4 linked regions of the Homo sapiens genome follow. The protein of the gene in region 4 purifies or fractionates together with the protein of the main gene of each other region. This does not show direct contact. Each region holds a gene or a part of one and is shown on either strand. Other genes may lie near its edges. The genes, in order: CACNA2D1, CD109, ANKRD40 and PRSS33.

Region 1 (6,911 bases), on a different chromosome or scaffold from region 4:
GTGATATTAAATTTTCTTCTCATACATTTTTAAACAGTCCACTTATTAAATATAAAACAGCATTTTTGAGTTGTATAGCAATTTATAGGAAAGTATATAGGTGCTCTGGTGGATAACTCCACTTTGAGATACAAAAACATTTAGGAATTGAGAAATATCCAAGAACTTGAATTTATTAGGACCTCATACCAATAATTAAAAATTTTCAGCAGTAGTGAAATCTGGTGGTCAGAGGTAATGTGTCTTAAAGATCTAAAATTCTAAGAAGACCTACTTGAATATAACGCCAAGGAGAAAAGACTACCAATATATGTCTGTGGATGTACAAATAAATAATTCTAGGTTTATAAATCTAGGAAGTAATAGGGTTAATAGGCAGGGGTGGATGTTTGATTGTTCAGTTTGTTTTAGATAGAGGTGTTCCAAATGACTTTAGACCAGAGGGAAAGAAGCCTGCTGAGAAGGGGTACGGAATATGCTTGAGAAAGAAGAACTGATGAAGCAAGGTCCCAAGAGAAGAGGCAGGAGTGGGATCAAAATGATTGATAGAGGAAATGAAGGTCTCTGGGGAAAGAAAATTGAAGAGATAAATTGGTATAGAATGAATCCAGATGTTCAAAAAACAAATGTAATCTACGTTACACTTTCGTGTAGTTTTTTTTTTTTTTTTTCCTTTCCTGTTAAAATGTCTTTATCAGACATAGGGGTCAGATTTTCCAGTAATCACCATCACGGGTACCCACATACTACATTCCACCCATACGTAGGTATTTTTCAAATTCTCCAGAGGAAAAAAAGATGGTAGGCCTACGTTATACTAGATTCCATATAACATCAGGCTCATCAGTTTATCACGTGAGCATAGGAAGTCAGGTTGTAAGCTGGTATAAGTGTAAAAGGAATCTAATAGGGCTTTTAGGGAAAATTCTTTATACTTCATTGCCTCAGCTGCTGTTCAAATGTTAGATGCATAGAAGAAAAGCACATTTCAGATACTCTAACTTGTTTCTTTCTTTTAACCTACTTTTCTGAGGTCTTTAAAGAAACATGGAAACATTAGGGAACTTTTTTTTATAAAAGAAGTCCAAAGTCTGATGAAGTACATTCCTAAGTGCCTTGATGGAGAAGGCATGTTAGAAGGTTAGACTTAAGTAAAGGCATCGCGAGTGAATTGACAGTCATCCCTCTGTGCGTGGGGGGGATCAGTTTCAGGATGCCCACGTGTATCAAAATCAATGCATACCCAAGTCAAGTCTGGAAAGTGGCCCCGCAGAATCTGAGTATACAGAAAGTAGGCACCTGGTATATGTGGGTTTTCCATCTTGCAAATACTGTATTTTCAATCTGCATTTGGTTGAAAAAAATCCACATATAAGTATATCCATGTGGTTCAAACATATGTTGTTCAAGGATTGACTGTATTTGTGTGAGTTGAGGTTTGTAATTGTAAAAGCACTATTTAATCCCAACTTTTATTTCCACAATCCAGAATTCTCTCTTAAAATTATTTATGACAGAGCCATCTGTCTCTTCCAACTGGATCTTTTAAAAAGCAGAAAACCCAAACCGCGTGGTGACTTTAAATGATAAACTTTTATTCTGAATATACTGTTTTTGCACAAGATTTAACACAACATTTTCTGGGATTATAAATATTTTATAACAGTATTATACAAATTTTTACAAAATGTTTTTATCAGGCTAGGTAATTTTCACAAAAGTGTCAAGAGAACAAAATAAAGGGGAGAAAAGATCTATTGTTCACAAAAGCCAGTTGGCCTTTTGCATGAATGCACACCATTTTAATAAAAGTATTCCTAAAAGCATGATCCGACACTCATACAACACAACAAAAAAGACAGCTTTACTAGGTCACATTATAAACTCAACTGGCATCTACACAAGACAGTATCCCATTAGTTTCAGTGGAATTTGAGATAACTGTGTGAACTAGAAATAAGGTAGATGAAGAGTTGTCTAATTCTTCAAAAATCTGGAATTTTTTTCAACACTCAAAACATTATATTGGTTTGCTCTTTACAGAAATGTACTGTGAATATTGACATTCTGCTATGGGAAACAATACAAGTTTAGATGAAAAAATATTTAAAATTTTGGGCAAGTGAAATAGTTATTTCATTCTATTCTTTAAAAAAAGTAACAACATCCATTTTGTTTCACTAGGTCAGACTATACCATTAAACATTTGAACGTCTAACATGATCAATGGAATAGATTCAGAGTTTTAAATGAAGACAAAATCTTAAGCTTTGTTGGTCACAGACAAAGATTTAAATGAGATTTAAAATACAAGAGAGCATCAAATAAGCAAGTAACACTTGGGTTGCAAAGGTCACTTAAAAGGGATACTGCCTATTTGAACCCGATAAGTCCAGTTTTAAAGTTAATAAAAGGAATATTATAGGAAAACTTACAAATGGCAGGAACACTGTTTTTTGTTTTTTTTTTTCCCAAGTTAAGCAGTAACACCTCAAGCATTAGAAACATGAAAAAAGATCATACTAAAATCTTATAGGCCCAGGACCTAAAAATCTCTTCAATCAAACTTGCTAACTATGTCATGTTAAAAACCTGTTACAAATATGGACCACGGTTGGTGTTTGGCAGTAATGCTGGTTGTTTAAATGAGGAAAATAAAAAGAAATCATTAATGCAAAATTCTTTCTTGTTACTCAACACCATTGCCAAGCTCACTTGAACTCTGTTTTAGTGACTAACTACACTAAGCCACATGAGTATAACAAAAATTAGTTAAAGCAGTGTATAAACTTTTTTATTGATCTGTTGTACTGTTCAGTCGTTGGAAATCAATATTAATAACAGGCTATAATTTAAGTTCTTGTCAATGTAACTCAGAAAAATACTAAATGTAATGTAATAATTTGATGGGATGAGTGTTACTGTCTTAAAAAATATGCTAAAAGCATGAAGACTAATATTAGTCATGGGAACAACTTTTATTCAGCTTGTTCTTACCCAATTTGTAATTGCATTTATGGTTGTCATAATATATAACTTTATAGCAGAAAATAAAGGTTTATAGCAAAACTCATGCATATAAATATATTTTGATGGCAACAGAAATTAAATAGGATCCTGCCAAGAGATGCCAAGTTTAACCGCGATTAATACAATAACAATGTAATTGATGAAAACATATACTCGACATTAGCCATGAAAATATATTTAATAGATTTTGAACATAATTTTAAGGTAGTTTGTTGTATGCTGGAAGCAATTCAATTGTTTTAATGTGCATTGTTTATATACACAAACTAACAATTTTATATTTTGATACCCCCTTCCCAACACTATCATGATTTAAGATAGTCTAGCAAAAATTGAACAATAACTTTTAAATATTTAACAAACAACATGATTAAAACATTGTTACTAGAGTGAGAAGTTTTTTTCCCCACATATATTTTAAATCACTTTGGTGTTTTCTAAAATGTCAATACCAGTTATGAATGACACTACAAAATCACAACAATGCATTAGAAATGGTAACTGATGTCAACTCTTAGAACAATAGTTGGCAAAGTGATTCCATTTCCCCCCACCTTTTTATTGAAAAAAAAAATCTTGAAATGTACACAAATGGTACCTAAGGTATATTGGTGGTGGGAGGGAATTACAAATGTATGCAAAGCTAAAAACAAAACAAATGTTATCTTTTAAGCTACGTTAAATTATTGGTTATATCTTTGATATGTGGAGCATATTAAAGCATGCTGGATAATGTTAATAACTTTGACTTAAAAAGGATATGTAAGAAAATTTCCAGCATATACACATACCAGTAATTGGCATGTTCCAAAAAAAGAAAAACTGCATTTTATCATAAAAAATATCTACATACGTTCAGCCTTCAGTAAAATTATTAACTATTCTTAGAATTACACATTCATAGTTTTTACCTTTTCTTCAAATACTGTTTGCTCCAGAAAATAATTTTTAAAAGCATAAATAATCTGCTACCATATTAGTCTATAATGAAATATCTGATTTACTACACTAACCATTTTCACCAATGAGGCTGTATAAAAAACAACTTTTATTATTCACAATCAAGTATTCATGTGCATACATAGAGATTCAAGGTTTCCTATTTGTTCAGATTATTGTAAAACCCTTATCAACTTGCATGGAAATTTTGGCCAAACGATCATACCATTTAAAATGGAAGGGCAAAAGCAGCAGTAGCAGGAACTTTTGGATTGTATGTGCTACTATTGAAACGAACAAAGAGGAAACCTAGGATGAATCTTCATTGAGAACATATATGTACTTTTCAAAAAATAAATGTGTCAAATCTGATTTATGTACTTAAAATATCTGTACATAGGTTATCAGGCGAAAGCATGAATCTGTATAAAATTCATTAATTCTCATTTCACCATTTATCTAACCCCAATCATTCAGCATTTACATTGCACAGTATATTCAGAGTAGTTTAACAACATTTTAAAGATGACTTAAGTGCATTTACACTGCAAGGTTCAGATTCTTACATAACAATATCACTCAGTTAACTTTTCAATGACTACACTCTACAGTAAGAGAAAAAACAACTGAAAAGTTAAAATAGCAGCAGCATCATGCAAAATACCCTTGGTAAACCAAAGTTCATTTATCACAAGAAAAACATTTCCCCCTCCCCCCTGACAAGCTTTTCTTAGAGCATTTTTAAATATCTGGCTAGCACTACATAACTGTACTGTGAACAAAAGGAACATTACATCAAAGCATTTATTAAGGGCTTGCTTACATTTATGAGGAAATATGTCACATATTCTAATTTCTCCCTCAAGCACCTTTAGTTTAATAATTTCTTAGTTACTATTTTCAAACCATCAATTCATTACCCCATCAAAATTGAATTGGTCATCAATTGTGTTTTATTTTTGGCAAAGAAGCCGTTCTTCATAAGGCATTTTATTCATGGCAAATTTTTCATAGAAAATTAGCCATTATTTATATTTCAACAATTTAGACCAATGTTAATTCTCTCTTTCTCTATATATTTCAATAATTGCTACTTAAAGCAGGAATTAACTTTTCACAGAAGAAAAAGTGAAGGCAAAAATAATTTCTTTCCCCTTAGAGATTTTCTTAGTAAAATTGCAGCAAGTCAAAATTCCAGGTCAATATCAAGACATTTCTTATGGTTCATTAACAATTGTATGGGGAACCCTTTCACATGTAATCACCAACAATGCAACAACAAACTCCCAAATTTTCCAATAGAGGACACGTATAGGATTTTGCTTTGATGTTACACATAGATGATGCAGCATTCACACACGTTTAAGGATCTGACACCCTGACATGCAGCCAGTGGGTGCCTTAGGAGTCTGCGCCTTAGTGTTATGCCATGGAACAGGCCCAGCTAATGTTTGTCTGATTTTATAGCTGACCCTACGTTACTGTAATTGAGGGCAGGGCTCATGTTTTGGCAGGGTCTGGAGTTTAACTATGCAGATTTGGTTTTTAGAAGGTCATAACAGGCGGTGTGTGCTGCCAGATACCAGCCAAAGTAGTAGAAACTGGATTCCAATGATATACCACAGGGAGGGATTTAATCCAGAAACACCACCACAGTCAGTATAATCCTCCTGTTGTTAAAAAAAAAAGAAAAGAACAGAAAAAGAAAAATCTAAAAATCTTGAAAAATATTTAGTAACACATCTTTCAGAGTAATCCATATTTAGTTCACTTTCTGAACTTACCTTATAAAACTGCTGTAATTGAAATCCAAAGAAATTACTTTCTCCTAGATTTTATCATTGAGGAATTTCCCTAGCATCATTTGACAAATGCTTTAAATTTTTAGTTGTAGCTTTTGATGATTATGAAAGAAAATAATAAATGCTGTTTGAATAATATACTAATTTTAAAGAAAAAACTTTCACAGTATCAAAAATCCTATATATTTATAAATGCAAGAAATAAATGTAAAATTTAATAGTAGGTTTTATAATTCCCAAGAATTATGATTTTAGCAACTATGCTCCATATGGTAAAGTTGGGGACTGGTAAAATAAATACATTTCCATTTCCCATATTTCTTATACAATTTATAAGGCTCAACATAGAGTGCAATCATAGCATCTGGACCTTCATCAAGAATTAAAGTAAAATGGGAATAATGTATTTGAACCATTGTTTATGTTGGTTCAAATACATTATTTGGACACATATAGGATTTTGCTTTGCAAATATATATCCAAAATAGAGAGCTAAGCTAGGAAGAGATTTGTCTTGAGACAACCAAGAAATATTAGAATGAATATACTCCCATTAACTCCCCACAGTCTAGTGGTAGCTCATTTAGTTCCCTCTTAATGCAAAAGTATTATTCATCTTTTATTCCTAGGTTCTATATTTGATAACATTGTCCACATCCTTTAATTCCTTTTAACATAGTGAATTTCATTTTTAAAAACCTCCTTATTATTTTTAAATTTTATTTCAATAGATTTTGGGGAACAGGTGGTTTTGGTTACATGGATAATTCTTTAGTGGTGATTTCTGAGATTTTGGTGCACCTGTCACCCAAGCAATGTACAATGCACCGAATGTATGTAGTACTTTATCCCTTACTCCCATTCCTCCCAAGTCCCCAAAGTCCATTATATCATTCTTATGCCTCTGCATCCTTATAGCTTAGCTCCCACTTAGAAGTTAGAACATACAATATTTGGTTTTCCATTCATGAGTTACTTCCCTTAGAAAAATGGTCTCCAACTCCATCTAGGTTGCTGCAAATGCCATTATTTCATTCCTTTTTATGGCTGAGGTGTATTCCATGTTGTATATATACCACATTTTCTTTAATCATTGGTTGATGGACATTTAGGTTGGTTCCACATTTTTGCAATTTTGAA
Region 2 (5,688 bases), on a different chromosome or scaffold from region 4:
TCCCACTAAAGGACCAAAAAACTGATAGAGCTTCAGTCAGTCATCCACAGTCCAGGCAGCAGGATGAAGAAAAAGCAAAAAAAAAAAAAAGGGCAAGGCACCTACTCCCTTCCTTTTAGGAATACTTCTCACAAGTATCACTAATATCTTTAGCCTATATCCCACTGACCAGAACCTGGTCCAGGACTCTACCTTGCTGCAAAGTCATCTGGGAAATGTAGCTCCTCCTGAGACTAAGGAGGAGGAAGAGAACGGGTTGAATAGGAGGAAGAAAGTAGCAGTCTCTGCTACACTGAACATCAACAAAGTGTGCCAGATAGGAGAGAAAGAACAAAGCAAATCCCAGGGGACAGCTCTTGGGATCTTTTGTGAGAGCACAGAACAGTCCTGGAAGCCCCCAGGAATCACTGGGAAGGACTGTCGGCGGGGCTGGAGGCCCTGCATCATCACTTAGATGGCATGGATGATGCTATTTCCAGGATCCCATTTCATACCCAGGCCAGTGAGGCCTGGAAAACTCATTAAATAATCCAGTGGTTCTCAGATTAAAATAATCATCAGAATCACCTATTTGCTTAACAATTCAGATCCAGAACCTGATTCTAGATATGCTGAATTAGGATTTCTTAAAGTAAGGCCAGAAATGTTTGTCAAACCAAGCTCTTAAGAGAGTCTAATGTCTATCAAGTTTGGAAACTACCATTATAGATATTTTCAAAAAATAATTACTTCATCTTTTCCCAGTCTCCAAGTGAAGTTTCCTAGACTTGGGATATAAACTTATTTGTTAATCTAAGTATCTGTCCAGTGATTCCAACGACTCTATTCTTATATAAGAGTGTATTAACTTAATCATATTAAACAATTGGCATCATGAGGTGATCTAGAAGGGCCCAGCATCACTGAGCTAGAGGGTTTTTCAACCTCAGAACTTTTCATATTTTGGGTCAAATAATTCTTTGTTGTAAGGAGCTGTCTGGCGCATTGTAGGATGTCTAGCAGCATCCCTGACCTCCATTCCCTAGATGACAACAGCACTACCTCCAATTATGTTAACCAAAAAATGTACAGACATTGGCAAATGGTTGCTGAAGGCAAAATCACTTCCAGTTGAGAACCCCCGATTGTGAAATGCTATCTTTAGTATTTCACAGAAGCCCAGAAAATTCATGGCAACAGAAATATTAAATAACACTGGGTGGGAATTAAGAAAATGTACATGAAATCTTATGTTCTGGCTGAGACAATCTGTGCCTCCATTTTCCTGTGTGTATAAAAACTATGTGTTCTATATACTTCTATATAATTTCCAGAGATTAAGTGAGTGCTCACCTCACATTAATTTTTTTAATTTGTGTATTACTTACCTCTCCACTGAGCGGGGAGGTAAAGGAGGCTGGTAATCAAATTTCTTCAACTTCATTATGTTGCTACCTTGCAACACAATAATCCCTACTCTAAGCTAGCCTCAAATATCCTGTTTCTCATAAATAAGCTTAAATAAGGGAGGTGTGCTATAGACATGCTTTATGCTAAAATAAAAAGAACACATAATAAATAGATGAGAATTTAAGCTTTTATTAATAAATCATGATTTTCTATTGAATACATAATAAAGTACAATTAACAATAACATAACATTACAACATTAAAAATTAAAACTTTCAGAATCACCTTGATCAATATATAAAGCTTTAGTTCCTTATTTCAACAGTGTTCTTCTCATATGCAAAACAGCTTCCCAAAATAAGAGATTCGTGAATGAAATTTTATAAAGCTTCCTGTGTACCAAAGAGATTGACTCCACATCAACTGTCCCCTACTGAAAATCCAAACCATACAGGCTTGAAGGACCAGAACTGAGCCACATTCTATTAAAGTTATCAAAGATAAAATCTTAAAGATCTACAAATGGAACATGGAACTACCTTCTACCACCAATTCAATACACTGGGCAAACGTGGTAAATCTTGGCCTCAAGACAACATAAGATAGAATGATTCTTAAATATGTAGCAACAGATATATCAATATTATCCCTATTACAGAGACACATGTATACCAATTTATAACTGTTCTTTGCAGTAAGAAACTCAGAAATCATCTAGGAAATATCTATTTTCCTATGTTACAACTGAAATGAAAATGACAACATATTTTGTAAAATGATGCAATGTGGTATTGTCTTTTGATGAGACATGAAAACACAACTCACTGGCTAGAAATAGTTGTAAAACAAGCCTACTCTCACTGATATATACTTACTTTAAAAGTTACACTTACTTCTTAGTTTTCTGAAGAAAGAAGGATAATGGTCCTCTATTCAAAGTAGTAATAAAAATAATTGCACCTCAAATTACTCCCAGTGTAACATAAGATATTTAATATTAACATAAATATCATTTGCATAGATGATAGAAAAATTCTAATTTCTTAAAAGTGCTATGCCTTACTGGAATTTGAAGACAAAAAAAAAAGTGAGGAATACACTCTTCTGCCTGTCCGACAGAAGCCTCTACCGAGAACGTAAAAGGTTCTGAAACTCATCTATGAATGAGTCCACTTACTATAAGTGTCTTAAATTTACAATGCGCAAAAAACCAATGCACCCAAGAATACATCATGGCACCTTGCCCCATGGTAACCACTTGGCAGACTCAAATAATAACTACCCTCATAGGGAGAAATCTTGCCAAGGGAGAATTTACAACATATTTTTAGAAAGAAATGAGTATTCAATCATTCAATAAAGCAAATCAGAAAAAGTAAGGTTGTGAAAAGAACTCCAGATTATATGCCAGCAGGTTAATAAAATAATTCTTTTTTAAAAAATGACAAAGAAAAATCATAGTTCCAATTTTTTACTTAATGTCTTGAGTCTGCCAGACATGTCAAATGAAATAATTGAATTATGTAAAAATAAAAATAGTTGGTATTATATTGACAGACTACTTATAAATATGTTTAGCATAAATAGAAATTAAAGCTAAATATGTCTTTTTCTAAAAAAAAAAAAAAAATTATACCTAGGCTCAAAAGAATAGGAGCAGGGAGAGTTATGCTATCTACAATTCTGAATATTTCCACGTGCAGGATACAGTATTACATATGTAAGTAACATCTCCTAGGTAACAGAAATATATCTGGATTCTACATAAGCAAAACACTCCTCAGATTATAATATATAATCCAAAATACTAAACCAAAGATACTATTTTTACAATGTTTTGAAAAACAAAGTACAATAGCACAACACAATAAAAGGAAGCATTTCATTGACCAGACATATTTTAATGGGCTTGAATTTCTTTTTTAAAACTATAACTAAATGTAATAAGATGGTGGAACCAAATATAAAAATGTTATTCTGTCCTAGAATTGTTTGGCTACTAGGTTTTCCCAACATTCAGTCTCTGGAAGCATCGGCCAGTCAGAAAGAGAGGTAAGATATGCTGGTGTTTTACTAAGGTTCCCAGTGAGTGGAAAAGAAGGGGGACTTTAGTTCATACCAGTAAATGACATTGACAGTATTCTAAATGGAAGAGCTTCAGCATAAGGAATCTTAATGGTAAAATGAGTTTTTTAATATTATTACTCATAGCATGTGAAGAAAATAATTTATACTAGTAATTATTACTACTACATATACTCCTTTTCTCCTTATGCCTGTGGTATTTTAATCACTTTTAGTCCAAGCCCACTGCTTGTAGCAGAGCAAGTTCTCTAAGGGAAGTATGAAGGAAGAAGTGGCCGGGACATCTGCACAGCCCCATGCACCAGGAGACAGTGCTAGCTAACCCTTTATGTTCCTTCTCATTGTTGTCCTCTTCATTTTTAATAAACTTACAATAAAAAGAGATGAGTTACAAGGTGACTTTTTTGTTTTTTGTTTTTTGAGACAGAATCTCACTCTGTCCCCCAGGCTGGAGTGCAGTGGCGTGATCTCGGCTCACTGCAACCTCTGTCTCTCAGGTTCAAGTGATTCTCCTGCCTCAGCCTCCCGAGTAGGTGGGACTACAGGTGCATGCCACCACGCCTGGCTAAATTTTGTATTTTTAGTAGGGACGGGGTTTCACCATATTGGCCAGGCTGGTCTCAAACTCCTAACCTTGTGATTCACCCGCCTCAGCCTCCCAGAGTGCTGGGATTACAGGCATGAGCCACTGCGCCTGGCCTACGAGGTGACCTTTAACTTGAAAACATGGAGTTCTTCACCAAAAAAGTATTCAAATGATAGTTTTTAAACAAGGAAATATGGTCTAAAAAAGATACAACCTGTCTTCCAATGGCCTTTCCATTCTAGTGTTTCCTAATATATTACACTAGAAGTTAACTATAAATTATATACTTTAAAATATAAAGTATTGATTGTCAGTATAAGGTTCCCAGGCCAGGAAAGAGGAGGGGAAAGTCCTTTGCCAAGACCCTCCCCCAATTTCTTTGTAAGATGATTTCACCTTTAAAGAACTCCCAGAGAGTAAAGGGCAAAAACACGTTTACAAGGAGGCCCCAACATTACAAGTGCCTGTTTTAGAACAGATTGTGTCAGAGGTGTAAGAGATCTAGAAACTTTTCCCCACTTAAGAAAAAAAGGCAAGAAAATTAAGTATTTGATACTTAACTGCCCTCTTCATAGACCACTGTCTGGGGATCTATTTTCTATGTACAGGTTTGCCAGCTTTAAAATACTGAATGTCAGTTATTCCTACTTTGGTATCCAAAATATCCATAAGCAATATATGAGCATCCATTCCACTATAATTTCTGAAAATTCACTAAAATAAGAGCATTTTTAAAAATTAACTTTAAAAGATACATTTGCATACTTTATTTTTGATGGATTTATTTTTAAATAGCTAAAAACATAAAGCAAATTCTTTGGAGCCCATGGCAATTACTTTTTCCCCTGTCCACTTGAGTGAAATGCCATAGAGCTAAAGAGAAAAACTAAACCATTTCTTAGATTGAATAAAAGATCATTAATTGTTGACACATATCTAAATCATTTCAGTATATTTAGAAGGCAAAGAAGAAAGGGAGAAGGAAAGAAAAGAGAGAAGAAAAGAAAAAAGGGGGATTCATCTTTAAAATTTCCATCCAGATAAATTATATTACCCTTCGGAATACAGGGCAATTAAAGATTGAGGTGCTCAGGATTCGGGGATCTTAAAAGTTCACAGCAAGCATCAGATGTCACTAGACAACTGGCAGTCTAATGCTCACACCCCTGAACTAGAAGAGGTTCCACAGGATCCCTGGCCAATGCCAGGGATCTTTAGGTCAGCAGTCATGTCAAGATGCTCTGATTCTCCACAAACCCAGCTTCTTTCCCAAACTGCAGGGAGGTCGGTCTGCAGTGACTTACCTAGTATTTTGTTGTATCCCTGGCTCACAGTGTCTCCCTGGTCTAGGATCTTCGAATCGAAATCCCATGAAGCACATATTGCAGTGCTCTCTGACTCTCACCCCTGAAATAGAGCTGGTGTGGGGCTGAGGATGTGGGAAGGAGACAGCACACCCAGCACCCCCCAGGGCAATTTTCAGTATGCTCCTCAACCTCTGAGATGGTGTGAAAAGCACAGTAAATGTACTGCCCCTCACATTTCTCTACAGAGGAAAAAGAGAGGGAGGGCAATGGCTGGGGGGTGTGATCAGATTTCAAGCAGAAAAAGACCGTGCCACTTAAAAA
Region 3 (7,763 bases), on a different chromosome or scaffold from region 4:
AGTTCTGGCACAGCACAGCCCATGTTGTTTAAGATCTTTTCCAGAAGATGGTTATACTTAATCATGCCAAAGGTCTGTGCATGATTAACAGACCTGTTTGGTGGGAAAACCAAGTGCAGCCAGCAGGGTTTGCTCAGGCCCAGCTCTGCCTCTGCTGGGGCAGTTTCCTGCACTGTCGTCCGTACTTCTAAGGCTATGGTTCACAAAGTAAGAGCAAGGCAGGGGAAACCATTCCAGCTATGTAGAAGGATAATTTACTTCTGCCATTGGAGCTAAGGAGGCAAAGTCTTAAGAACAGGTTTGGGTATCAAACTATACATGAACAGGGGAAGAGGGAAGAAGGTTGGAAAGAAGGCATGGGCAGGATGTGAGTTACCCTAAAAAGATTTAACAATTATGGACCTAAAGGTATCTGTAAAATATGAAACTCCTTGCAAAAAAGACAGTAAAAGAGCCAAATGACAAGCTACTAATAAAAGCTAAAGTATAACTTGATTTGAATGTAGCACACCTTCATGAGGAAGGGGTCTTGGCTTATTATTCATAGGTCTGGGATCTAAGCAATCTGCTCCTTTATTCTGAACCTGGCTGCCAAGACAGCCTGAGTCAAGCACCCTGTACATTTGGCAGTTCTGCTTTGTTCCCTGTATATGAATCCCTTGTAGCACCCCAGGTCACTGTTAGCACCTACAGTAGTAACTCCTCAAAAACAGGAAGTGAGAGAGTTACTTCCAGGAAAAAAGGAAAAGTAAGACTAGCTACACCCTATGGCATTTGACTGGATTTGGAAGAATCAGGATGAACTTGTGGTTTTTAATATTTTTAAAAAGTTATACATAGAGAAATATTGATATCTTTCCTGGCTATGTCCTCTCAACGGGCCTAGAAGAAATGATATACCTGTAGCAATGAGGACACCTAGTGACCACATCCTGGTGTCTGAATACCATTCTCGGTGGGCCCAAGTGGGAGGCAAGTTTGCTGTGTGCCCTAAATACCATTCTCCACCAAAAAGAACCAGGGCTTCTTGGAGAAATGACTGATTCCAGGGTTGGGGCAGGAAAAGTTATGCTATAAGCCCGGAACATCTTGCTGCCCCAGAAAGTAAGGCAGTGCTCCAAGAACAATGAAGACACATGCAAGGGACATAAGAACTAGCTTCAAGGGGCTCCCACTGGCCAAATCTGGGATAATTTGAATAATTAAAAAATGATAGTAACAGATTATAACCCACTGAATAAAATAAGAATATATGAGTCAATACTGATATGAATGAAGGAGAAGGGAAAGCCCTTCTTTACAGTAAAATACCAACTAATAAGTAGAGAAAGAATGATAGAAAATCATATCCCACAAAAATAATTGGCCTGGACTCTTCAAAAAGATCAAGATCAAAAATGATAAAGGGTAAAGATTCCAGATTAAAGGAAACTAAAACAACGTGATAACTACATGCAACATATGATCCTGGGCAGGATGCAGGGGGCAGAGGAGTACAGATAGTCCAGATAGATATCAATAGTACAGATAGTACTATTTCTGTAATAGTACAGACAGTACGTATAGTAGATGAGGGAATACAAAAGGCAATGTTTGAGACAACTGACAAAATTTAAACATGGTCTATGGATTACAGAACAGCATTAGCTCAAGATTACATTTCTCAAATTTGGTCATTTGTACTGTAGTTATATAAGAGAATATCCAGCTGGGTGCGGTGATTCACACCTATAATCTCAGCACTTTGGGAGGCTGAGGCAGGCAGATCACTTAAGGTCAGGAGTTTGAGACCAGCCTGGCCAACATGGTGAAACCCCATCTCTACTAAAAATACAAAAAAAAAAAAAAAAAAAAAAAATTAGCCAGGCGTGGTGGCATGCTCCTGTAATCTCAGCTACTTGGGAGGCTGAGGCAGAAGAATCACTTGAACCTGGGAGGCGGAGGTTGCAGTGAGCCAAGATCACACCACTGTACTCCAGCCTGGGTGACAGGGCGAAGCTACGTCTCAATAAAAAAAAGAGAGAATATCCTTGTTCTTAGGAAAGATATAATGGAAAGAATACTGAAGGGTATCAGGGTAAAAGGGCAAAAGGTAAACAATTTGTGAATTTGAGTAAAGGGAGTTCCTTATGTTAGTCATGTAACGTTTCTGTAAGTTTGCAATTATACCCAGAATACCTCATTAAATCCCACCCCTCTGGACACCAACTCCCCTGTTGCAGAGGCTGTTTGCTGATGAGGGGTTACCTTGCATATTAAATGGAAATGCTCCAGTGAAGAAAAATGGCTGGAATGCTGGCGCTGGTCCTGCATACGTCCCATTTTGAGGCTCCAGAGACATTGGTGGCTTGGACGGGACAGAAGAAAACAGGGAGCGGCTCTGACTCACTGGTGGCTGACAAACAGGACCCGGTTTTGTGCTTTCTGGTGTTCTGAGTATGGCAGAGGGGGCCGACACATCACCATTCTGAACTAGTGCCAAAGAGGTGTGGTCCCGGGGAAAGGTCCCTAACAGGGGAGGTTCCCCAGGGGGAAGCAATGGAGGTGAGCCATCTGCAGGGGGTGATGCAGGGGGTGTGGAGGGGCCCCCATTCTGCATCTGGGCTGAATCCTCTGCTGTGGGTGTATAGATAAAAGGGAAGGCTGGGTTGGCCAAATAGTTGGGAACAAAGGGCAGTTCTGACTCCTTCTTCAGCTGGGGGAGGTTGTCATCATCATCATCATCATCATCTTCTTCTTCCACTTAAAAAGAAGAAAACAGAACATTTACACAGTCCTTTCAAAATTATCAAAACAAGGTGTCTTTTGAAAGTGGTGTCTTTTGGTATGTGACATTGGTCAGTGTCAGGTCAGAAGAAAAAAGAATACTTCATTAGGTTTATGATTACCATTTTTATCATTATCTTAAATTTTACAAATAAAAAAATAAAACCTTACAATGCTGACCTCCCCAGAAACAATCTGGAATTACTATCTTGGCACAGTAATTTGCTTTTAGAAATAGAACAGTTGCCGGGAGCGGTGCCTCATGCCTGTAATCCCAGCACTTTGGGAGGCTGAGGCTGGCGGATCACCTGAGGTCGGGAGTTTGAGACCAGCCTGACCAACATGGTGAAACCCCGTCTCTACTAAAAATACAAAATTAGCGAGACGTGGTGGCACATGCCTGTAATCCTAGCTACTTGGGAGGCTGAGGCAGGAGAATCACTTGAACCTGGGAGGCAGAGGTTGTGGTGAGCCGAGATCACGCCACTGCACTCCAGCCTGGGCAACAAGAGCTAAACTCCGTCTCGGAAAAAAAAAAAAAAAGAAAGAAATAGAGCAGTTGTTTGACCAGCATTAAGAACGTAGCCAATAATACCACAAGTCTTCAATGAGTCTGAGGAAATCAAAAGTTCCCCCAAACACAGACTCACCTCCCATAATCTTCCTGATTTCTCTCCTTGATGTTAACTGGACTGGCATTTCTCCTTTTGTGGTAAGAATTTCTTTGTCAGCTCCTGATTTTAACAGGTAAGAGACCACCTGACCATGGTTTCGTTTACATGCCCAGTGTAAACAAGTCCTGTACCAAAGAAAATAATGATTGAAAAAGAGGAGAAGTGATTTTGGATTTCAGATTCTAAACATTAGTAAATAATGTATAAACAAGCCTGTTAGAGTTCAGCTAGAACCAGGTAACCGGGCTGGTAATCTCAACTTTTCACAAAGCCGATGAGCAAAATATTTAATATGCTTAAATTTTGTTTTTAAATTTCATTTCTGGCTCCTGAGAAAAACTAACTTAACCTAGGAGTTTTAATTTCAATAGCCTCCAGAAGGTAAGCTCACTGGCTGGCTAACTCCAATGATACCGTGGAATATACTCTATCAGTATCGCTCATTAGATCATCTCAGTCTCTGAAACATATTTTTCTATTGCTATATTCCTTTTCAGGGACTATGGAAACTCACTTCATATGCCACCTGAAGATTCAATATTATCAGGATAATAACCATCTCCTATCAGCAGCTTGCTCTGTCACTTAAATTATTATTATGACAGCAGATATTCTTGCCTGAATCCCAGTTGCTCACTTTCTTTTTCCTTCTTACTTTTCTTTCCTTAACACACACACAAAGGATTTCCAAATTTCCATTTTTAAAAAGTTGGCTTCTCTAGTTCTCTCCAGAAGGCTACAAACATATCCTCATCTGCGTAAATGTAAGGCACTGCACACATACTTTAATTCCTGAGGTACTTAAAAAATATACATCAACAACCAAAATTCTTCACGAACAGGTTCTTCTAACATATCAGACTCATTTAAGTAAAACTAATCACTCAATATTGTACACAGAGGAAGCAATTCTGCACACTCTGAAGGGCTACTATTTTAATACTGTACAGAAACATAATTAGCATGCCAGCAAAAACTCCATCTTAACAGAAATGAAAGATTCAGAGCAACTAAATCCATCCCTAGGTGCCAGAGCTGACTGTATATTATGGAAGGAAAATACTTTTCGCCTGTGTTTTGAAAGGTCTTCTTTCACCAACTCTCTAACTGAACTGAGATACATATCTTCAGAGCTCTTATAGCCAAATACAGAAATGAAGATTAGAACAAATGTTCAATATTGAAGGTTAGTTCACTAACCTGGGAAGTATAATTATTTGGAAAGTTTATATGATTCCAGGAAAAAGCTGATTTGCCCTGGGCTTAACATTAGTAACTTACAGAAAGTTAGCATGTCTGGCTGGCTGGGAGCAATTCCATTGATGTCTCAGAGTGACATTCTACATTATGGTTCATTAGAATTAGATTATCCAGGTTCCTTTAAGGTGTATTCCATGATGCAATGACAAAATTATTGCTAATTTGGGAAAAATAAGAGTCTCGTTAAGTTTGGGAGAGAAGAGTCTTGATCAAGCTCCCTGAAGGCAAGGAAGTGTTTGCTTGGCATGTATTAATTAATATTTACTGAATGGGCCAGGCACGGTGGCTCACACCTGTAATCCCAGCACTTAGGGAGGCCAAGGCAGGTGGATCACTTTAGGTCGGGAGTTTGAGACCAGCCTGCCCAATAGGGTGAAACCCCATCTCTACTAAAAATACAAAAATTAGTGTGATGGTGCATGTCTGTAATCCCAGCTACTGGGGAGGCTGAGGCAGGAGAATTGCTTGAACCCAGGAGGTGGAGGTTGCAGCGAGCCAAGATTGTGCCACTGCACTTCAGCCTGGGCAACACAGCAAGACTCCATCTCAAAAAAAAAAAAAGTACCAAATGAGTAAACTAAGGATAAAGTGGACCTTGCTTGAAGTAGAAGGATCCAATCTACCCTTGATTCTGGGCAAACTGGAACCTTGAGTGTGTTTGTGTGTGGATGTCTGTGGCACAGGCTTAAAAAGTGAACAATTATAATGATAAGTGAGCCCTCAAAAATGAATGAAGCATGATGAGAAAAATATGCTCCCTTTTGGAAATAAAATGCTCACTTGCTAGTAGTAGATCACTTGTTCGTGGCAAGCTTGAGAGTAAAGGAGGTAATTTACTACCAGTGGGTCTGAGAGACTCTGGGACAAACCAACTTGCTAAACTACCACCCATGTAAAGCAGGGTTAAGTCAACATAGCGTGGCCCCCACAGCCCTGTGCCTTAGTGATCATCATTTACCGTCCAGAGCTGTGCGGCTCTGGGCAGCCATAACTCAGAGCCCCTGCAGCCAGGTAATATTTTCAAGTTCTTCATGAACCAAGGGTTATGCATGACACTTGAATTACAACTGATGTGGGGGAATGATTAGTGATCAATCTAATTGATAGATTACTCTATCTTTGAACTTCAACTCCTTAAGCTTTACATTTGCAGTCAAAATATCTTATTAGTGTCAGAAACTATTTCAGACCTGAGGCACTGGGTGTCATTCATCAACAGGGCATCACTCATTGGTGCTGAAATTGTGATTACTGAGCAACTAAGACTTGAAAGCAGTCACCATTCTGCTTTGCAAATGCAAGAGAGTACGTTTTTTTGAGGGTAACCTTATATTCCATTATCTAGCATATTGCTTCATAATAAGAAAACAACAACAATGGCTAATACAGGTATAATGCTTTACGTGTTGGACATTGTTCTAAAGGCATTACATGTATTAACTTATTTAATCCTCTAAACCCATGAGGTAATACTACTGTCAACATTCCCCCCATTTTACAGAAGAGGAAACAGACATCAGCAAATAAATAAGCAAAGCACGCAGTACGCTAGGTGGTGATGAAGTATGACAGCAATAGTAAAGCAGGGAAAGGCATTAGGGAATGACAGAGGTTGGAAAGGGGCATTGTGCAACTTTAAATTGAGGGCCCAGGAAAAGCCTTGCCAAGAAGGTGACATCTAAACTAAAATCTGAAGGTGGTGAGGAAGCAAACCATGTGATATCTGGAGGGAAAGCATTTAAGAGAGTGGGAAGACAAAACGCAAAGATCTTGAATCAGGACTGTCTGGTATTCCAGAGAAAGCAAGGAGGCCAGGGGAAAAAGGTAAGCAGAAGGGCAAATCCCATGAGATTAGCACAGAGGTAAGGAGGGAAGATGTGGGGACAGGAAGTAGAAATTGTAGGACCCTGTAGGCTTTTACTGAGTGAGATAGGAGCCATTTTTGAGCAGAGTGAAATGATCTGACTTATGTTTTAAGTCAGGATCCCTCTGACCACTGTGTTAATTAAGAAGACTGTATGATATAAGCTTAGGAGCAAGGACACTAGTAGGAGGCTATTGTAATAATCCAAGCAAGAGAAACAATGGTGGCTTTGTATCAGAGGTGTAGTGGTAGGGTTAGTGAGAAGTAGTCAGATTCTGACTGTATCTGAAGGTGGAGCTCATAGAATTGGCTGACTGGATGTCGGCTATGAAAGACAGGAGGCAAGCAGGAGGCAAGCAGGGTGCCAAGGGTTCTGGCCTGAGCACTCCTGAGAGGCTGAGGACTCAGAGGAGCAGGCTTGAGGTGGTAGAGGGATGAGGGGAGACTTGGAATTCAATCTTGGACATGTTGAGTTTGAGGGGCCTATTAGACAGTTCCTCCAATTAAATCTACAAGAGGCCGGGCGCGGTGGCTCACGCCTATAATCCCAGCACTTTGGGAGGCCGAGGCGGGCAGATCACCTGAGGTCAGGAGTTCGAGACCAGCTTGGCTAACATGGTGAAACCCCATTTCTACTAAAAATACAAAAAACTAGCCAGGCGTGGTGGCACACACCTGTAATCCTAGTTACTTGGGAGGATGAGGCAGGAGAATCGCTTGAACCCAGGAGGTGGAGGATGCAGTGAGCTGAGATCACGCATTGCACTCCAGCCTGGGTGACAAGAGTGAAACTCCATCTCAAAAAAAAAAAAAAAAAAAAAAACCTATAAGAAGCCTCTTCAGGCTACCTCAGAATCACTTCACTAAACACCTCCTATGGGGCAGACATTGTGTTTAGGAGGGTAGGTCTGGCATCAGATACCAGGTTTGTTTTCTGGCTCCACTAGTTACTGTCAATCCTATGACCTTGGGAAGGGGCACTGTGAAAAGTGAGGAAACAACTTACGGTTTCTGGGCCTCAGTTTCTTCATCTGTAAATGGAGAGAACAGTAACTATGTCCCCAGGTAGTTGTGAACAAGCTAACACATGTAAAACACTTAGAACCCTATCTGAGCTGGCCGGGCACGGTGGCTCACGCCTGTAATCCCAGAACTTTGGGAGGCAGAGTCAGGCGGATCACAAGGTCAGGAGATCGAGA
Region 4 (9,081 bases):
GGCCCCAGGCTCACCCTGGGAGTGAATGGTGGCCAGACACAATGAGAACAGAATCTGGGCCTGCCCCGGGACTCCTGACCCCTCCTGGGCCGAGGGCCTGATACCAAGTGCCCAGCCTCTTGCAGTATGTGGGGAGGTGGCCGCGCTGGCCAGCCCACCTTTCCCACTGGGACACCTTCATCACAGTGGGGCAAAATCTATATTAGTTTTTATTGCTGTATAACAAGTCAGCACAAATGGAGCAGCTTAAAGCACACATTTATTAAGTCACAACTTTGTAGGTCAGGAGTGGCTCAGCTAGGTTCTCTGCTTAGGGTCTCTTTAGGTTGAAATGAAGGGATTGGCCGGCGGGGCTCTTATCTGGAGGCTGGGGAAGAACTTACTTCCCAGCTCCTTCAGGGTGCTGCCAGAATCCAGTGCCTTGCGGCTGTGGGTCTGAGGGTTCCGATTCCCTGCCGGCTGTCTCTCAGCTCTTAGAGGCCGCTCATGGCTGTGGTCCCCGTGTCCTCAAAGCCAGCTATGGAGGATCTCCCTGGTGTCAAATCTCTGTCATGCTGTGAATCTGACTTTCTCCAGAAAAAGATGGGCACACAGGCCAGATGGGCAGCAATTGGTTTGCCCATCACTGCGTGCCTTGCGCCCAGCCCTGGCCAGGGCCAAGAAAAGTAAATACAAGCCAGGAAGGGAGTGGGGAGTGTGACTCCCTGGGACTCATGGCAGATTCCTGGATGAGGGTTGGTGGAGTCAGAGCTGGTGATCCCCAAAGAGGAGAGGAGGCAGGAGGTGGTGGGTGGGGGGTGGGGTGGCCTTTAGCTTTTTTAGGCATCTTGGCCTCGAGGCAGAAGGGATGTGGGGTATAGGCAGGTGCCTGGATGAACCAGGAGGCTGAGGGACCCCAGCAGCTGGCTCCAGGTCAGCCTCACCGGCTAGCATTAGAAGCTGACGCGAGCCTGAATCCAGGGGCTATATGTGGCCACACTGGTGTAGACCCCTGGACGGTTGGGCAGGGCACAACCCTTGCCCCAGCTCACCACGCCCACCAGGACCCAGCTCCCAGACTGCAGGCAGGTCAGAGGTCCCCCAGAATCACCCTGCAGGAGAAAGAGGAGCCTAAGTCCCAGCCCTCCCAGGACTTCAGTTCTCAGGGTTCCAGACCCCTGGCGTGGTGCCTCTAGGTTGGAGGCCAGGATCCTGAGCCTGAGTTGGGATGTCCTGGGTCCTGGAGTTCAGGGAGGGAGGGTGCTGGGCACAGGGAGGGGACTCCGGAGGCTGGGGAGGCTGGGTGCACACCTGGCAGGCGTCCTTGTGGCCCTGGGGGTAGCCGGCACACAGACTCCCAGGCAGCACAATGCGCTCAGCCTGGGGCACGTCCGCGCCCACGTGGTAGAGGCCGTCGCAGGTGCGCGAGTCCAGCAGCGGCACCCTTACTCCTTGTAGCGGTCGCCACTCTGGGAGGGGCACTGGGGGAAGAGGAGGGACCTCTGAGAGGAAGGCGTGGAGCGGGGGCCAGTGGGAGAAGCTGAGCTCTGAGTGAGAGGAGGTTTTGTTCCCTAGAAGCCGCGCTGGGTCCTGGATTGGGGCAGTGAGGGGCTGGGATTTCCAGTCAGATGGAGGAGGACGTGGGGGCTCCCGGATGCCTCGGAGCCCCGCCCTCCTGCCTTACCTCCTGGGCGGAGGCTGCCCCAGCCGGTGACCCGGCATGGTGTGCCGGGCGGCGGGCGGGCGCCGGGCACGGGCAGGCAGACGGGTTGGACGCGAGCGCTCAGGGGCACCGGGCGACGCAGCTGCAGCAGTGCCAGGTCGCCGCGGGCCCCGTCCTCGGAGTAGTCCGGGGGCAGCAGCACCCGTCGCACGGGCACCGAGAGCGTGCGGGGCGAGGTGGAGCCCAGACGCAGCGCCCCCAGGCGCACGCGGTACTCAGCTGGCAGTGCCCTCCTGCAGGACAGGAGCGGGGGACTACTTCCAGCACCGGGTCCTCGACCCCCTCCAGCCCGCCTCGACCCCAACGCCTCTGCCAGGCCACGCCCGGTCCTCTGCGGGCCTTGCCTTCCTTGCACACCCCGCCTGGGCCCTCGGTGAGCGCTGACCTGGGGAAGCAGTGCGCCGCTGTCAGCACCCACTGGGGGGCGATGAGCGACCCCCCGCACACGTGTGCCCCACGATGCTGGATGCTCGCCTGCCACGGCCACTCTCCGTCCCGGCCATCCCGGCCCCCAACGATCCGACTGGACATGCGGGGCTGCCCGCAGGCTAGAAAAGGACCAGGGGCGGTGAGGGTTGGCTGAGGACCTGGGGCCTGGGAGGCAGGTGTTGGTGGGGAGACACGGGGCCGAGGTCCAGGAGGGGCTGACTCGGGTGGACTCCGAGGCTTCCTCACCTGCAGACTTCCTTCCCTGAGTCCCAGCAGCTCCTGGAGGAGGAAGCAGGGAAGGGACCAGATTATAGATTTGGTGTCAAATAACGGAGTTGGAGGGGAGGCCAGAGATGAGGAAGGAGGGTGAAACAATGTTGCCCTGACATTGCGCCAGGCTTTCGTGCCGTCTGTTATCTTATTTAACCCTCCCCAGAGCACTGTGAAGGTGCAGGGGGCAAGGGCGTATGAGCATGACACCGACAAGCACATCGAGGTGTGGTGAGGTCAAGGTCAGTGGCAGAGAGGATTGAGCCCTTGGAATCAAGATTAGAAAGCCCAAGAGTGCTCCAGGGAGCCCGGCCCAGGGAGCAGTGAGATGGGAGAACTGGGAGCCAAGGTGTCTGCGGCCCTCACCCCCAGTCCCTGTCCCCACTCACCCAGCACCAGAAGGAGCAGGACCTGGAGACAGGAAACCCCTCTCATTCTGTCTTCAAGGCTGGGCTGGGTAAGGGTGGCACTGCCTAGGGCTTGGACTCTGGTCTGGAGCCAGCAGGGAGAAGAGAGGAGAGTCCTGGCCCAGGGGCACCAATCCTCACACCAGCCCGTCACCCCCTCCGTGGTCCTTCTGTCTGTCCTCAGCTCCTGGTGGGTTCTGGACTTATCCTGGTGGCCCAGGCTGTATACCCTTCGTTCTGCCCAGGGCCCAGGTATGCAGCACCCACCACCCAGATATTTGGGCATCCTTGGTCTCGACAGAAGCCCTGGAGCCTAACCCCCCTCGGTCATCCTCACTCCCTCCCTCATCCCCCTCCCCCATCCTCACCCCCTCCCTCATCCTCACCCCCTCCCTCATCCTCACTCCCTCCTCCATCCTCACCCCCCTCCTCCTCACTCCCCTCCCTTATCCTCACCCCTTCCCTCATCCTCATCCCTCTCTCATCCTCACCCCCTCCCTCATCCTCACCTCCTCCTCTATCCTCACCCCGTCCTCCATCGTCACCCCTGCTCCTCCTCACTCCCCTCCCTCATCCTCACCCCCTCCCTCATCCTCACCTCTCATCCTCACCCCTCTCTCATCCTCACCCCTCCCTCATCCTCACCCCTCCTCTATCCTCACCCCCTCCTCCATCCTCAGCCCCCTCCTCCTCACTCCCCTCCCTCATCCTCACCCCCTCCCTCATCCTCACCCCTGTCTCATCCTCACCCCCTCCCTCATCCTTCACCCCCTCCCTCATCCTCACTCCTCTCTCATCACCCCTCCTCCATCCTTCACCCCCCCATCGTCACCCCCTCCCTCATCCTCACCCCCTCCTCTATCCTCACCCCCTTCCTCCTCACTCCCCTCCCTCATCTTCACCACTTCCCTCATCCTCACCCCCTCCCCCATCCTTCACCCCTCCTCGTCCTCACCCTCATCCTCACCCACTGGCTGCCCCTGCAGCCCCCACAGCCCCTGGCTTGCTCTCACCCTCACAGCCTGGCGCCTTCTGCTGACTGGGGTTGAGGGAGGGCCTGGGGGCTTAAAGTGCCAGGAGAGCGCGAGGCTCAGCCAAGGAGTAATGAACAGGGCCGGGGCGGGGCTGTGGCTTTACCGGACCAGCCTCAAACAAAGATGCTTTGAGCAGAGCTTCAGAGGTGGCAGGAAAGGGTCAATGGGTTTCTCAAAGGAAGCCTGCCTTGCGCCAAGGTACTAGAAGTGGGGGCTGGCGGAGAGCAGTGGTGCGGGTAGGTGCTGGGAGGGGTGGCAGTCAGGTGGGGAAGCTCTGCAGGATCCGGGGCAACTCCTCTCCAAACCTGACCTGGGCTCCCTGCAGAGCACACGTTGCTGGAGCTTCTGCGCTCCATTGTTCTGTCCAGAAATCCCATCTCAGACGGAAGTCCTGGCCAGACAGCTCCACCCAGAGACCCCAGCATGGCCAGCCCCCTTCCAGATCCGGGGTCTGGAGCAGCTGGAGGTGGAAAGGGACTGGTTCAAAGTTGGTGGCACTCCTTACTTGACCAGAGGCAGGGGGAGACTTGACCTTGGGGACCAGTGCAGTCTTTGGTTTGGGGTGGCCGAGACAGAGCAAGATGCTGGGGTCAGGGGACAGGAACTCCCCTTCTCTCGAGGCCCGTGGAGGACCGGGGCCCGGATGGTCCAGGGCCCTGTAGTTCCCTCTTGGGCTCATACACAGTGTTCGCTGCCTAGAAGTCTCTCAAGTCCCTCTCTGCATAGTGAACTCCTCTTATCCCTCAGCCTTCTGCTCTGCCACCTCCTCCTGCCTCCTTTGCAGCCCTGCCATAGTTGTACTTTTTTCCTTTTTTTTTTTTTTGTTTTTCTTTCTTTTTTTTTTTAAAGAGACAGGGTCTTGGCCAAGCATGGTGGCTCATGCCTGTAATCCCTGCATTTTGGGAAGCCGAGATGGGTGGCTCATTTGAGGTCAGGGGTTTGAGACGAGCCTGGCCAACATGGTGAAACCTCGTCTCTACTAAAAATACAAAAATTAGCCAGGCCTGATGGTGGGCGCCTGCAATCTCAGCTACTCGGGAGGCTGAGGCACAGGAATTGCTTGAACCCGGGAGGTGGAAGTTGCAGTGAGCCGAGATTATGCCACTGCACTCCAGCCTGGGCGACGCAGTGAGATTCTGTCTCAAAAAAAAATAAAAAGGGAGAGAGAGACAGGGTCTTGCTCTGTCACCCAGGCTGGAGTGCAGTGGTACAATCACAACTCCCTGCGTCCTTGACCTCTGGGCTCAAGTGATCCTGCCACCTCAGCTTCCCAAGTAGTTGGGACCACAGGTGCATGCCACAGCACCTAGCAATTTTTTTTTCCAGAGATGGGGTCTTGCAATGATGCCCAACTTGTTCTCGAACTCCTGGGCTCAAGAGATCCTCTTGCTGTAGTCTCCCAAAGTGCTGGGGTTATAGGCATGTGCCACCGAGGCCAGCCCATAGTTGTCCTTTGACAGGGACTTGAGGAGGTTTGATTTACATCCTCTTGTCTCCCCTCCAGCATCAGGGTCTGGGTCTGTGTCCCTGTAGGAGTCCGCTTGGGCTGCCATAAACAAAAACCACAGCCGAAGGGGCTTTCTTTTTTTTTTTCTGAGACAGAGTCTTGCTCTGTCTCCAGGCTGGAGTGCGGTGGCGTGATCTCGGCTCACTGCAACCTCCACCTCCCGGGTTCAAGCTATTCTCCTGCCTCAGCCTCCTGAGTAGCAGGGATTTACAGGTGCGCGCCATCACACCCGGCTAATTTTTTTTTTTTTTTTGTATTTTTAGTGGAGACGCGGTTTCACCTTGTTGGCCAGGATGGTCTTGATCTCTTGACCTCATGGTCCGCCCGCCTCGGCCTCCCAAAGTGCTGGGATTACAGGCGTGAACCACTGCGCCCGGCCGTGGGGGCTTAAACAACATAAATGTATTGCTCATGATTCTAGAGCCTGGGAATTCCAAGATCAAGGTGCCAGTAACATAGTTTTCATTCTAAGGCCACTTTTCTTGGCTTGTTGGGTGGCCTGCATCTTGCTGTGTGCTTCCGTGGCCTCTGTGTGCATGAGGGGAGGGAGAGAGACAGGTTGCACTCTTGTCACTTCTTATGAGTGACACAGAACGGCTGGGCTCCCACCTTCAAGCCTGGAGCCCCAGCCCTAAGTGAAAACATCTGACCCTGTTTTTCTGCCCAAATGATTGCCTTCTTGGCCCACCCCGCCCCCTAACCTGTACCGGTAAAAACCAGACCAGATGGCAGAAGAAAAGGAAGAAAAGAGCAACACAAGCAGCTGACCAGCAGGGATACAAGCTGCTGAGCCTTGGGGATACATGCGGCTGAGCTTTAGCTGTGGATAGATGCGGCTAACTTCAGATGGTGCGACTTCAGGGAAAGATCACCTTCCTTCCGCATCAATTCCCCATCCTGCTGACAGCCACTTTTATCACCCATTGAAATCCTCCGCATGCACTACCTTCCAAATAGCTCATGTGACCTGGTTCTTCCTGGACACTGAACAAGAACTCGGGTGTCAAAAAGGGCAGGTGCAGGATGCTGTCACCCTGACCCTTCACTGAACTGTTAATATTTAGCCATCCACGAACAACAGCTGAGTGAAACGAGCCACTCCAGTTCCTGCCCACGAAGGGGGTCACAGTCAAGGGAACAAATCCCGTCTCATAAGGACACGAATTCTATTGGATTAGGGTCCTACTCTTTTTTTTTTTTTTTTTTTAAGACAGGGTTTTGGTCTTGTTGCCCAGGCTGGAGTGCAGTGGCACAATCTCGGCTCACCGCAACCTCCGCCTCCCGGGTTCAAGTGATTCTTCTGCCTCAGCCTCCCGAGTAGCTGGGATTACAGGCATGCGCCACCACGCCCAGCTAATTTTGTACTTTTAGTAGAGACAAGGTTTCTCCATGTTGGTCAGGCTGGTCTTGAACTCCTGACCTCAGGCGATCCACCCGCCTTGGCCTCCCAAAGTGCCGGGATTATAGGCGTGAGCCACTGTGCCCAGCAGGGTCCTACTCTTGTGATCTCATTTAACCTTAATTACTTCCATAAGGGCAAATACAGTCACAACAGTGAGTAAGGCTTTGACATATGAATTTTGGAGGGGACACAAACATTTCAGTGCATAACATTCTCCAGTGGGCAGGACAGTGCCCAGCACAGAGCTGGCACTAAGGATTTGGGAATAAGTGGCCAAGGCTGAGCAGGGCAGCAGACTGGGGATGAGGCTGAGGGACACAGAGGAGGGGGCTGGTGGGGACACAGACCCAGCATCTGGATGCAACGTAGACAGAGGGTGGTCTTCAGGCCTGACCTCTGCTGTCCCCGTTTTAGGACCACCCTCAAGACCCGCTCTCTGCAACTGGGCTTTGGCGCCCCGGTCTCCAGCTCTGAGTCCTTGGGAGAGCTGTTGAAGCCTCACCTACCCTGCTTTCCTCATCTGCAAAATCCACCTGGTAGGTTGTGGTAAAGATTAATGGGGTTGACCATGCAGAGCTTGGCACAGTGACCAGCACTTGCCAAATACTAGGAAAGTCCTGCAAGAATAAAAGAAGTACACTCCCACCCTCCCTGAGCCTCCAGAATCTTCTGCTATACCAGGTCGGCTTGCCCTTAGAGGGCATAGTGGGGACAAGGCCAGGTGGGCAGTGTCCCTCTCTGTCATGGTTGGGTGCGGCTGGAGACCTGGACCAGTATGAGAGTGACAATGGACCCTCAGAATATGCAGCCATCCCGGGGGACTTGGCCAAGCACTGGGAGGGAAGCCAGCTAGGAGGATGGACTCCCTGTTCAGTGGGAGCTGGGTCTCTGCCTCTTCAGCGGGAGCTGTGTCTCTCCCTGTTCAGCGGGAGCTGGATCTCTGCCTGTTCAGCGGGAGCTGGGTCTCTGCCTGTTCAGCGGGAGCTGGGTCTCTGCCTGTTGCAATTTGGGGTGAAGGGGGAGGTTGGAGATCTGAGGACACCTGAGGGCTTGGGTTAAAGAAATGGATTCTCACGGCGAAATGGGCTTTTTTCAGGGGAGGGTCTGCAACTGGTTAAATATTGGACATCGGATCTTTGGGAGAGGAGGGAAAGAGCCCCCAGACCCAACCCCTGTCTCAGCTCCTATGTTGAGAAACTGAGGCACAGACCCTCAGGTAGACCCACCTCCCCTTCAGCACCACTCTTTTTTTTTCTTTTTTTTTTAGTGGTAAAAAACACACAATACAAATATACCATCTTGGCCGGGTGCGGTGGCTCACACCTGCAATCCCAGCACTTTGGGAGGCTGAGGAAGGTGGATCACCTGAGGTCAGGAGTTCAAGATCAGCCTGGCCAACATGGCGAAACCCTGTCTGTACTAAAAATACAAAAAATTAGCCAGGTGTGGTGGCGTGCGCCTGTAATCCCAGCTACTTGGGAGGCTGAGGCAAGAGAATCGCTTGAACTGGGGAGGCAGAGGTTGCAGTGAGCCGAGATCGCACCAATGCACTTCAGCCTGGGTGACAGAGTGAGACTCCGTCTCAAAAAAAAAAAAAACAAAAACACACACACACAAAATAAACAAATATACCCTCTTAATTTTTAAGTGGATGGTATAGTATTGTCAACTATATGCAGATTGCCGTAAAGAGATCTCTAGAGCATTTTCATCTTGCTTGACTGAAACTCTCTTCCTTGAACAATAGCTCTGTGTGTCCCTCTCCCCCAGCTCCTGGCAACCACCATTTTACTTGCTGCTTTGATGAGTTCGTTACTTTAAATACCTCATATAAGTGGAATTTTGCAGTATTTTTTGTTCTGTAACTAGCTTATTTCACTTAGCATAAGGTCCTCAAGATCCATCCGCGTTGTAGCATATGAAAGAATTTCATTCTTTTTTAAGGGTAAATAATATTCTGTCAGAAGTTCCTGACCAGCCTGGCCAATATGGTGAAACCCCATCTCTACTAAAAATACAAAAATTAGCTGGGTGTGGTGGCGCCCATCAGTCCCAGCTACTCAGGAGGCTGAGGCAGGAGAATCGCTTGAACCTGGAGGTGGAGTTTGCAGTGAGCCGAGATGGTAACATTGCAGTCCAGCCTGGGCGACAGGAGCGAAACTCCATCTCAAATCATCATAATAATAATGATAATAATAGGCTGGGCACGGTGGCTCACGCCTGTAATCTCAGCACTTTGGGAGGCCCAGGCAGGTGGATCTCGAGGTCAGGAGATTGAGGCCATCCTGGCTAACACGGTGAAACCCTGTCTCTACTAAAAAAAAAAAATA

The links.
Region 1: the proteins of PRSS33 (region 4) and CACNA2D1 purify together in Homo sapiens (affinity purification with mass spectrometry; 2 studies listed by BioGRID and IntAct, with this or other methods). This does not show direct contact.
Region 2: the proteins of PRSS33 (region 4) and CD109 purify together in Homo sapiens (affinity purification with mass spectrometry; 2 studies listed by BioGRID and IntAct, with this or other methods). This does not show direct contact.
Region 3: the proteins of PRSS33 (region 4) and ANKRD40 purify together in Homo sapiens (affinity purification with mass spectrometry; 2 studies listed by BioGRID and IntAct, with this or other methods). This does not show direct contact.

What each region holds. Positions count from the first base shown.
Region 1 is NC_000007.14:81,944,870-81,951,780, forward strand, and holds the end of CACNA2D1 (voltage-dependent calcium channel subunit alpha-2/delta-1 isoform 1 preproprotein), read right to left. Parts: intron 5,640-6,911; coding exon 5,523-5,639; 3' UTR 1,575-5,522; downstream 1-1,574. UniProt on the Homo sapiens protein: The alpha-2/delta subunit of voltage-dependent calcium channels regulates calcium current density and activation/inactivation kinetics of the calcium channel. Plays an important role in excitation-contraction coupling.
Region 2 is NC_000006.12:73,824,184-73,829,871, reverse strand, and holds the end of CD109 (CD109 antigen isoform 1 preproprotein), read right to left. Parts: 3' UTR 1,559-5,688; downstream 1-1,558. UniProt on the Homo sapiens protein: Modulates negatively TGFB1 signaling in keratinocytes.
Region 3 is NC_000017.11:50,697,152-50,704,914, forward strand, and holds part of ANKRD40 (ankyrin repeat domain-containing protein 40), read right to left. Parts: intron 3,566-7,763; coding exon 3,417-3,565; intron 2,743-3,416; coding exon 2,248-2,742; intron 1-2,247.
Region 4 is NC_000016.10:2,783,712-2,792,792, forward strand, and holds PRSS33 (serine protease 33 precursor), read right to left. Parts: upstream 3,850-9,081; 5' UTR 3,822-3,849; exon of another isoform or gene 3,764-3,821; intron 2,894-3,763; 5' UTR 2,837-2,893; coding exon 2,791-2,836; intron 2,411-2,790; coding exon 2,378-2,410; intron 2,251-2,377; coding exon 2,088-2,250; intron 1,936-2,087; coding exon 1,664-1,935; intron 1,461-1,663; coding exon 1,291-1,460; intron 1,092-1,290; coding exon 933-1,091; 3' UTR 242-932; downstream 1-241. UniProt on the Homo sapiens protein: Serine protease that has amidolytic activity, cleaving its substrates before Arg residues.